2 separate regions of the Homo sapiens genome follow, and region 2 is linked to region 1. The links come from fine-mapping of genetic effects on gene expression. A gene starts in region 1. The other region holds a variant in brackets. All regions are shown on one strand. Distances are from middle to middle. Region 1 holds the start of PLD2 (phospholipase D2). Region 2 overlaps MINK1 (misshapen like kinase 1).

Region 1 (4,385 bases):
CCCACCCTGCACTGCTTGCCCCAATCTCAGGCAGGGAGAAATTAAGAGTGATGTCTACGGATGCCTGGGTGAAGGGGGCCAGACACTCACAGTCCTTTGCGGCCCAAGTCCGGGATAAAGGACAGCTGACTGACTTCCAGGAACTCTGTCTGCAGAGGAAAACAAAAGCCCGGAGGAGACACCTGGCTTTCAGCCCCTCAGACCCTGGGGCCCCTGGCCCTCCTCCCCGAGGGTCTGATAATCCTGCTCCACATCTAAAATCGGCCCCTGGACCTTACCATGGCATGGTAGTTGCGATAGAAAGACATGGTCAAGAGACGGTTGAGGTAATTCTCCAGGTATTTCTGAAGTGGAGATGAGAGAGAGAGAGAGACAGATGGGACCGAGCCATTTGCACCTCCAATGCCTTCCCGGAGGACCTGGCATCTGGTCCCACCTGTTTGCTGGCTGCATGTCTGGTGGAGCCCTCAGGACCTGCCCGGGGTAGAGAGGGCATCTCTCTGTTGCCTGCATCTCGGGCTGGAGAATAGGCAACGGCAAATCTGTGGAAAGGATGGATGAAGGTCAGGTAAGAGCTGGGAGGCTGGGTGCTCTGGTTCCTGAAAACACTGGAGATGGGGCTCGGAGGAAAAGAAGAGGCCTGGAGGTGGCCAGGCGTGGTGGCTCACGCCTGGAATCCCAGCACTTGGGGAGGCCGCAGCAGGTGGATCACTTGAGCTCAGGAATTTAAGACCAGCCTGGGCAACACAGCAGCACCCCATCTCTACAAAATATACAAAAATTAGTTGGGTGTGGTGGCTGTGGTCCTAGCTACTCTGGAGGCTGAGACGGGAGGACTGCTTGAGCCCAGGAGGTTGCCATGAGCCAAGATCATACCACTGCACTCTAGCCTGGGTGACAGAGGGAGACCTTGTACAAAACAAAAACAAAAAACAAACAAAAGGCCTAGAGGCTGGCAAAACGGAGGCCCCCTACCCTGGGAATGGAGACTAGAAAAGGGTGAGGCTGCCAAGAGCATTTTGGGCATCCCGCCCAGCTGAGATGCTGGCACAGAACCATGGACAGGGAAAGCTGAGCAGGGAAAGTTTCCTGGTAACTGGGGTCAGGGGAGGCAGCACAGTGGCCAGAGTTGCAGGGAGGAAAGGTTGTGGCCCCGGGGTGAGACAGACAGAAAGGAGGGTGGGGAGCACCTGCCCTCTACAGGAAGCAGTCCGGTCGCCCTCACCGAGCCAGAGGGAGCAGACTCATCAAGACTTTGTGTCTCAGGAGGTCCCGATGCAGCTCCTGAAAATGACGGTATTTCTTCTTGGTTGTCCAGGAAAAGTCGCCGTGAGTCAAGCGGACAGAATACAGAGTGCAGGTTCCCACCTAGGGGTATGAGGAACTGAATGGATGTCCCCTGCGTGGGTCCCCGCCTCCCCACTCTGGCCAGCCCTCCTTTTGCCCCTTCCCTGGGGCCAGCCCAGCCACCTTGGATCCATTCCGGGCCGCCCTCCCTTTCCCCCTCCCTGGGGCCAGTCTGGCCACCTTGGATCCGCTGGTATATCTTTCGGTGCCCACCACCTGGGCTGTGACAGGGACCCCAGGTGCGAACACCAAGGGGTGCACTTTCAGAGACTGAAGCTCATAGATGGCCAGAAACGGGTGCATCCGGTCGGCTGGGAGGAAAGAAAGTCGAGGAGTGTAGACCACAACAGGCCCCAGCCCCCTGGCTCCCGAACGCCTCTCCTCCCTGAGGGCCATCCATCTTCCCTGTGTACCTGGGTCCTCTCCCTCCTTCAGGGTGTCCACCTCATCGGACTCCATCTGGAGCTGGCTGGAGTCCAGTTCGTCCCCAGTGGGGAAGAGGCTCTCAGGGGTCGCCGTCATCCTAGGAACATTGGGAAGCCTCAGGGAGGCGAGCTGTCCTGCAGAACCCGCCCCCCATCCTAACTCCCGCAGGTCCTCCATCTCTTCCAGATCCTCCTCTTCCCCCACGGCCTCCTGACCGCCCGCGGATGACGCCTGACCAGTTTGCAACGCCCCACCGACCCCTTCGAGCCCCCATCCCCTACCTTAGTCCTTCATCCACAATCCCAGTCCCGCCCCCCGCCCCCCGCCCCGTCCCGTAACCAGAGCCCCGGGGAACACCCAGCCAGGCCCGGAAGGCTCCGACCTGGGGCGGCGCAGCAGCTGCGCGGGGAAGCGGCCCTGGGTGGTCCGGAGAGCGCGCGGCTACGGGGCTCACGCCAGGCCAGGCGGGCCGGGGGCAGGGGTCCAGGCGGGAATGAGGAAGTTACGCGATCCCAGCCGGGGGTAGAAATCCCGAAATCTGAGCGTGCGACTGAGTCTGGAGGCCCCGCAGCCCGAGCCCGTTCCGTCCCCGCCCGATTTCCGAGACCCGGGACCCCCGCGCGCCCCTTCCCGGCCCCCTCACCCTGGCAGACGGAGCCAGCGCCCGCGGGGGTTCCGGAGCCAAGAGAGCAGACCGGAGCTGCAGCCGGAGCCCACGCCCCGGCCGAGGCGGGGCCGGCCGAGGCGGGGCCGGGGCTCAGGGCCTGCCCTCGGGGGCGGGGCGGCCCCCGGCCTCACCTCCGCGGGATTCTCGTCTGTCCTGTCCCGCCCCCGCTGCCCTCGGCCCGCCCCGCCGCCCAGTGCGCCACCGAGAGCCCCGGGCAGGGGGCCGCCCTGTGCCCTGCAGGGCCGCGGGGCCGCGTAGCTCTCTCGGTGCGGCGGGTAAGTGCTGCCCGGCGTCGGGGCGTCCCGCGCCGTCGGTCCCAGCGTGCCCGGCCGCTGCCTCCCGGGGCACCCCGCGCTGCGCGCATCCCTCGGGCTCGGCGCCCGCCCCGGGCCCCTCCAGCCGCGGGCGCTGCCTCGGCGCCCGGGGGACGCGCCTCCGCTGCGGGAGCTGCCGGTAGGTGCCCCGCTCCCGGACCCGCTGCGAGCCACATTTGGCCTAGCCCAGATAGCGTTTGTACCTGGAAGGAATGAGGGCGTAAAAGGCCTGAGGGGTGGTGGCTACAAACCCATTAGTGTATGAAAGCGGGCATTCTTTCATTCATTCACCAAACATTTATTGCGCGCTTACTCCGTGCCAGAAATTGAGAGTATGGTAGTAAATAAGATGGTTAGAGAGCCTGCTCAGCTGGAATTGGCAGTCTAGGGGGAAATAAAATTTTTTCGGGTATTAAAATACAAGATATTTCAATCTTTTTTAAAAAGCAGATTTATTTTTCTCTTTTGATATACATGTGGGTTTCTAGTTTTGCCCATTGTTTTAGCTCCTGTAAACATTCCTGTAAGTTTGCGTGGATAGTTTTCCTTTATCTTGGGTAACTAGGGAGTGGAGTTGTTCGATCATATCAGTGTGTGTTTAACTTATAAGAAACTGCCAAACGATTTTTTTCTAAATGGTTTTTCCATTCTAGATTTCCAAAATCAGTGTATGGTGGTTCCAGTTATTCCATGGCATGGCCAACGTTGGATATTGTCAGTCTTTAGCGTTGGCCATTTAATGGGTGTTGTGGGCACATCATTGCAATTTGATTTGCATTTGTCTGGAGATCAATGATATTGACCATGTTTCATGTGCTGATTGGCCATTTGTATGTCTTCTTTTATAAAGTGCCTATTCAGTCTTTTGCTATTTTTTATTTATTTTTATTTTTATTTTTATGAGACGGAGTCTCGCTCTTTTTTTTTCTTTTTTTGAGATGGAGTCTTGCTGTGTTGCCCAGGCTGGAGTGCAGTGGCGCGATCTCGGCTCACTGCAAGCTCCGCCTCCCAGGTTCACGCCATTCTCCTGCCTCAGCCTCCTGAGTAGCTGGGACTACAGGCGTCCGCCACCACGCCCAGCTAATTTTTTTTGTATTTTTAGTAGAAACGGGGTCTCACCGTGTTATCCAGGATGGTCTCGATCTCTTGACCTTGTGATCCGCCCTCCTCGGCCTTCCAAAGTACTGGGATTACAGGCGTGAGCCACCGCGCCCGGCCAGAGTCTCGCTCTTGTTGCCCATGCTGGACTGCAGTGGCGTGATCTCGGCTCACTGCAACCTCCCCCTTCCAGGTTCAAGGGATTTCCGGCTAATTTTTGTATTTTTAGTAGAGACGGGGTTTCACCATGTTGGCCGGGCTGGTCTCAAACTCCAGACCTCAAGTGATCCGCCCTCCTCAGCCTCCCAAAGTGCTGGGATTACAGGCGTGAGCCACCGTTCCCGGCCTTTTGCTAATTTTTTTTTTTGAGACAGAGTTTCGCTGTTATTGCCCAGGCTGGAGTGCAATGGCGCGATCTCGGCTCACTGCAACCTCCGCCTCCCGGGTTCTCTCCTGCCTCAGCCTCCTGAGTAGCTGGGATTACAGGCACCTGCCACCACGCCTAGCTAATTTTTTGTATTTTTAGTAGAGAC
Region 2 (4,385 bases), 40 kb before region 1:
TTGCCGGAATTCCTGAGTCAGGACAAACAGGAGTTTCGTGTTCAGATAGAAGATTTTGAAGTTACTCTTCCTTGCAGTGACGCTGGAAGACTTTCAGGAGATGGTAGGAGGCTCTAGGACTGGGAAAGGGAAGCCAAGCCCACAGAATTCCAGGTCTACACCTGGGGCTCACTGACTCACTCTCAGCCATTTACCTTAAAATCAATAGACTGGGTGGTTTTCTCTTTCTTAAACAAAATACTAAGTCAGGGGGAGAGGAATGTTAAAGAACCCCAGGAGACACGCTTTCTGGGAACTTTGTGCAATAAGAGATGTTGGGCAGCTACCACCTGTCTAATGAGCATTTACCAGACTAAGCACTTTACATCCCTTTTATTTAATCCTCTCAACATCCCTATTAGGTGAGTCTTGTTACCTTCATTTTACAAAGGACAAAACTGAGGCACAGGGGCCAGGTTCGCGGTGGCTTAGGCCTGTAATCCCAGCACTTTGGGAGGCTGAGGCAGACGGATCACCTGAGGTCAGGAGCTCAAGACAAGCCTAGCCAACATGGCAAAACCCCATCTCTACTAAAAAATACAAAAACGAGGCCAGGCGCGGTGGCTCACGCCTGTAATCCCAGCACTTTGGGAGGCCGAGGCAGGCGGATCACGAGGTCAGGAGATGGAGACCATCCTGGCTAACACGGTGAAACCCCGTCTCTACTAAAAATACAAAAAATTAGCCAGGTGTGGTGGCAGGTGCCTGTAGTCCCAGCTACTTGGGAGGCTGAGGCAGGAGAATGGCATGAACCTGGCAGGCGGAGTTTGCAGTGAGCCGAGATCACGCCACTGCACTCCAGCCTGGGCGATAGAGTGAGACTCCGTCTCAAAAAATACCCCCAAACACTGAGGCATAGGGGTATGAGTTACTTGCCAAAGAACACGTAGTAAGTGACAGAACTGGGGTTTGAATCAAGTCTGTCTCCAAGGTCTGTGCAGTTGCAGGGAGCGATGGGGAAGGTCCCCCATTCCAGGTTCCTCTCTGTCCCTAAGGAACAATTCCCTGTCTTCACAAGTCAATCCCCATTTGGTTCTGACTGCTCTTCCTCCTCAGCACTAGCAGACTCAGGAAACCGTCTCTGGAGTGTACATATTCTGAAGGTCATATTTCAAATCAAATAGTCCTTCAGAGTCCCTCCCGTCCTCCCTCCCTCCTTCTTCCTCTCTCTCCCCCATCTCTCCTCTTTTAAACAGAGATGAGGTCTCTATGTTGCCCAGGCTGGTCTCAAGCTACTGAGCTCAAGCACTCCACCCACCTCTGCCTCCCAAAGTGCTGGGAGTACAAGCATGAGCCACTGTACTGGGCCCAGACCTTTTTCTGAAACTTCCCTTTATTTTTTGTGTCCTTCCCATGGATGCTGGGCTCCATACCCACACTCCAACACTGCGCCCAACCTGAGATCTCTCTACACAGTAGGAACTGATGTTTCCGAGACCAGCTCTGAGACACCACCCGCCCTGGCCACTGGCACCCCCCGTTTCTGTCAGCTCCTCCCAGCTTAACACACAGTCACCACCTCATACATGCACTTTTCCTTATATATAGAACACTGTAAATTACACATTTAATATATTCATATGTTTAAGTCAGTGTGAGAACAAATAAAGCATATTTTGACCTCTATGACAGGGGGCTGGCTCTGTCTCATAGTAGGCACTCAAAAATTTTTAGGAAGAAATAAGGACTCCTGGGCCTGAAGGGATCTTAGGGAATCCTATCATCCTACAGTCCTCGGGAAACACTCCCTGCAACTGCATAGGCTTTGGAGACAGACTTGGATTCAAACCAGCATCAGCTCACCTAGTCAGGTGTGGTGGTGGGAGCCTGTAATCTCAGCTACGCTAGAGGCTGAGGCAGGAGAATTGATTGAACCGAGGAGGCAGAGGATGCAGTGAGCTGAGACTGCGCCACTGCATTCCAGCCTGAGCGAGACTCCATCTGAATGAATGAATGAATGAATGAATGAATGAATGAACTGGAACCAAAACTAGAACCAGGTCACCCGGCTCCTCATGCCATGTTCACTCCATGGATCACATTGCCTCAAAGGCAAAGTCAAACAGCCCGTTGTGTTAGCAGGCCTCCCACTGACAGCTCTTTAGAGATAGGCAATTTGGGCCACCTGAGGAGGTTATGAGGCCAGGACAGGAGATCCGGGCAGTAGCAGGTATGTTCATTGTTAACTTGTGAAACACAACTAAGCTGCAAAGACTACACTTTGGACTCCACACTGACCAATCTCACACGAGATCTCTGTTTCTGGTGGGGACTGGGCAATGCGGCAGAGTCATGAGGCATGAGTATGGGAAGTCAGCTCTCACTAGCTCTGAGGCCTTGGCCGACTGCTGGCACCTTCTGAAATGTAAGATGGGGCCGAGCCTGTGGCTCACACTTGTCATCCTAGCACTTTGGGGGGCAGAGGTGGGAGGATCACTTGAGGCCAGGAGTTCAAGGCTACAGCAAGTTATGATCATGCCGCTGCACTCCAGCCTGGTCAACAGAGCACGACCCTGTCTCAAAAAAAGTCATAATAAGATGGCCCATAGAGGCTCTGCTTTAAACAC[A/G]AACACTTCAATCACTTATTACTTGTATTGGCGATGGTGATGGGAACAACATCCAGGCAGACTGTAGGATAACACCTAAGGATGTTAGTGTCTCTAGGAGTCATCAATTGGAACATTCCTTCATTCAAACTTTGAACATTAGGGTGGGGTAGACTGAGACTCAGTCCAAGGAAAACAACTGACTGCCATTCAGACCTGGCTCAGCCTAAGAAAAAAGTACGCTTTAGACTGCAGTAAGAGGAATTGTGGTGAGAAGGGCCATTCGGTATTGGGCAGTTCCTGGAAGGTGTCATCAAATACATGCAGCTTCCTCTAAGGTTGTACAAGGAGACAGAGAAAAAAGACCTCATGAGTCCTTGAGTCTTCCCTTGATCCTTCCAATCTGACACTATTGTGAGGAAACGCAGAGGTCTTTTGCACTGCAGGCTTCTGCCTGGTAATGTAAGGGCACAGCCCACAACAGTGTACCCTAAGATACCACCCCAGCCTACCAGCTAGAGGCCTGTATTTTGACCTCTAAGACAGGGGGCTCTCCTGCCCTCCTCTCTTCCTGGGCCACCTGGAGAATAAGTGTGTCACTCCCTCCCTTTTTCCTCCTTCCCCATGAAGGTCAATGAGAAACTGTAAATAGCAAGGATGAGGGAAAGTGAGGAGGCCAGGGAGGCCATTGCATTCATCTGTGTTCTAAAATATCCAACTCAGCCACATGCGGTGGCTCACGCCTGCAATCTCAGCACTTTGGGAGGCCAAGGCAGGTGGATCACTTGAGGTCAGGAGTTTGAGACCAGCCTGGCCACCACAGTAAAACCTCCATCTCTACTAAAAATACAAAAATTAGCTGGGCGTGGTGACGCATGCCTGTAGTCCCAGCTATTATGCTTGGGAGGCTGAGGCAGGAGAATCGCTTGAACCCAGGGGTGGAGGCTGCAGTTGAGCCAAGATTGTGCCACCGCACTCCAGCCTGGGTGACAGAGCAAGACTCTCTGTCAAAAAAAAAAAAAAATCCAACTCAATTCCAGGTCATGCTTTGGGTCTGTCCAGGAGTATGAACACTAGAGGAATACAGAGCCTGACCTGGCTCTCAACTGTCGAGGCCTGGAGGTCCAGGAGGGTTGACCGCCCTTTAACACATGTACCCCTCACATACTAATACAGAAATGCTGTTACATTCTATGATCTTCATCCCCTAAACGACCTTATTTCCAACTTCCTCTAGCACCTACCCATCAGACCCCCAGGATGAGATGAAGTAAGAGGCTGAAAACAAGCAAGATGACGAACATGAGCATAGCAGAACCAGAACGCAAGTCATGGCTGGGGGGTGGCAAAAGGAACTGAATACGGAACAGAAACCCTTAACTTCTCTTGCTGCTGCCCAATCCTCTTGTGATTCCAGACAGCCATTTCATTTAAAATCCCTTTCAGAAGCCTGTCATCTTGCATTAGAGCTGGGAGGGGGGTTGTGTTCTGGGTTGGCTGATGATACATGGACTTCTGAGACATGCACCTAGGCGGACTCAACAAATATTAAACATCTGCTCGGTCAGACCCTCTGCTCAACTCTGCACACACAAAAGACAATGAGATGCAGAATGGTGGGTGCCAGGGGCTGGAAGGTGGAGGGTTCAGAGAGTCAGTGTTTAATGGGTACAGAGCTTCATTTGGGGAGGATGAAGAAGTTCTGGAGATGGATAGTGGTTACAGTTGCACAACAATGTGAATGCACTTAATGCCACAGAAGTGTACGCTGAAAAATGGTTATAATGGTAAGTCTTACAT

The links. PIP is the estimated chance that this variant, and not a neighbour inherited with it, causes the effect. A credible set is the group of variants that fine-mapping cannot tell apart.
Region 2: its variant is the best candidate, but not a certain one, in a credible set for the expression of PLD2 in whole blood (TOPMed, PIP 0.51).

The regions. Positions count from the first base shown.
Region 1 is chr17:4,805,257-4,809,641 of GRCh38, reverse strand. It overlaps PLD2 (phospholipase D2), which reads right to left and starts at 2,490. Exons shown (of 25, transcript NM_002663.5): 1 at 2,417-2,490; 2 at 1,761-1,870; 3 at 1,528-1,658; 4 at 1,226-1,368; 5 at 437-542; 6 at 279-344; 7 at 91-149. The coding sequence starts at 1,869. It also overlaps a transcript of C17orf114 not described here. RefSeq lists an enhancer at 555-1,754 and a silencer at 2,150-2,939.
Region 2 is chr17:4,844,863-4,849,247 of GRCh38, reverse strand. The region is part of intron 1 of MINK1 (misshapen like kinase 1); the gene reads right to left. Among named protein-coding and RNA genes, the nearest start is that of MINK1, 14 kb to the right of the region's middle. RefSeq lists an enhancer at 1-298. The variant A/G (reference allele first, on the strand shown) is at 2,607.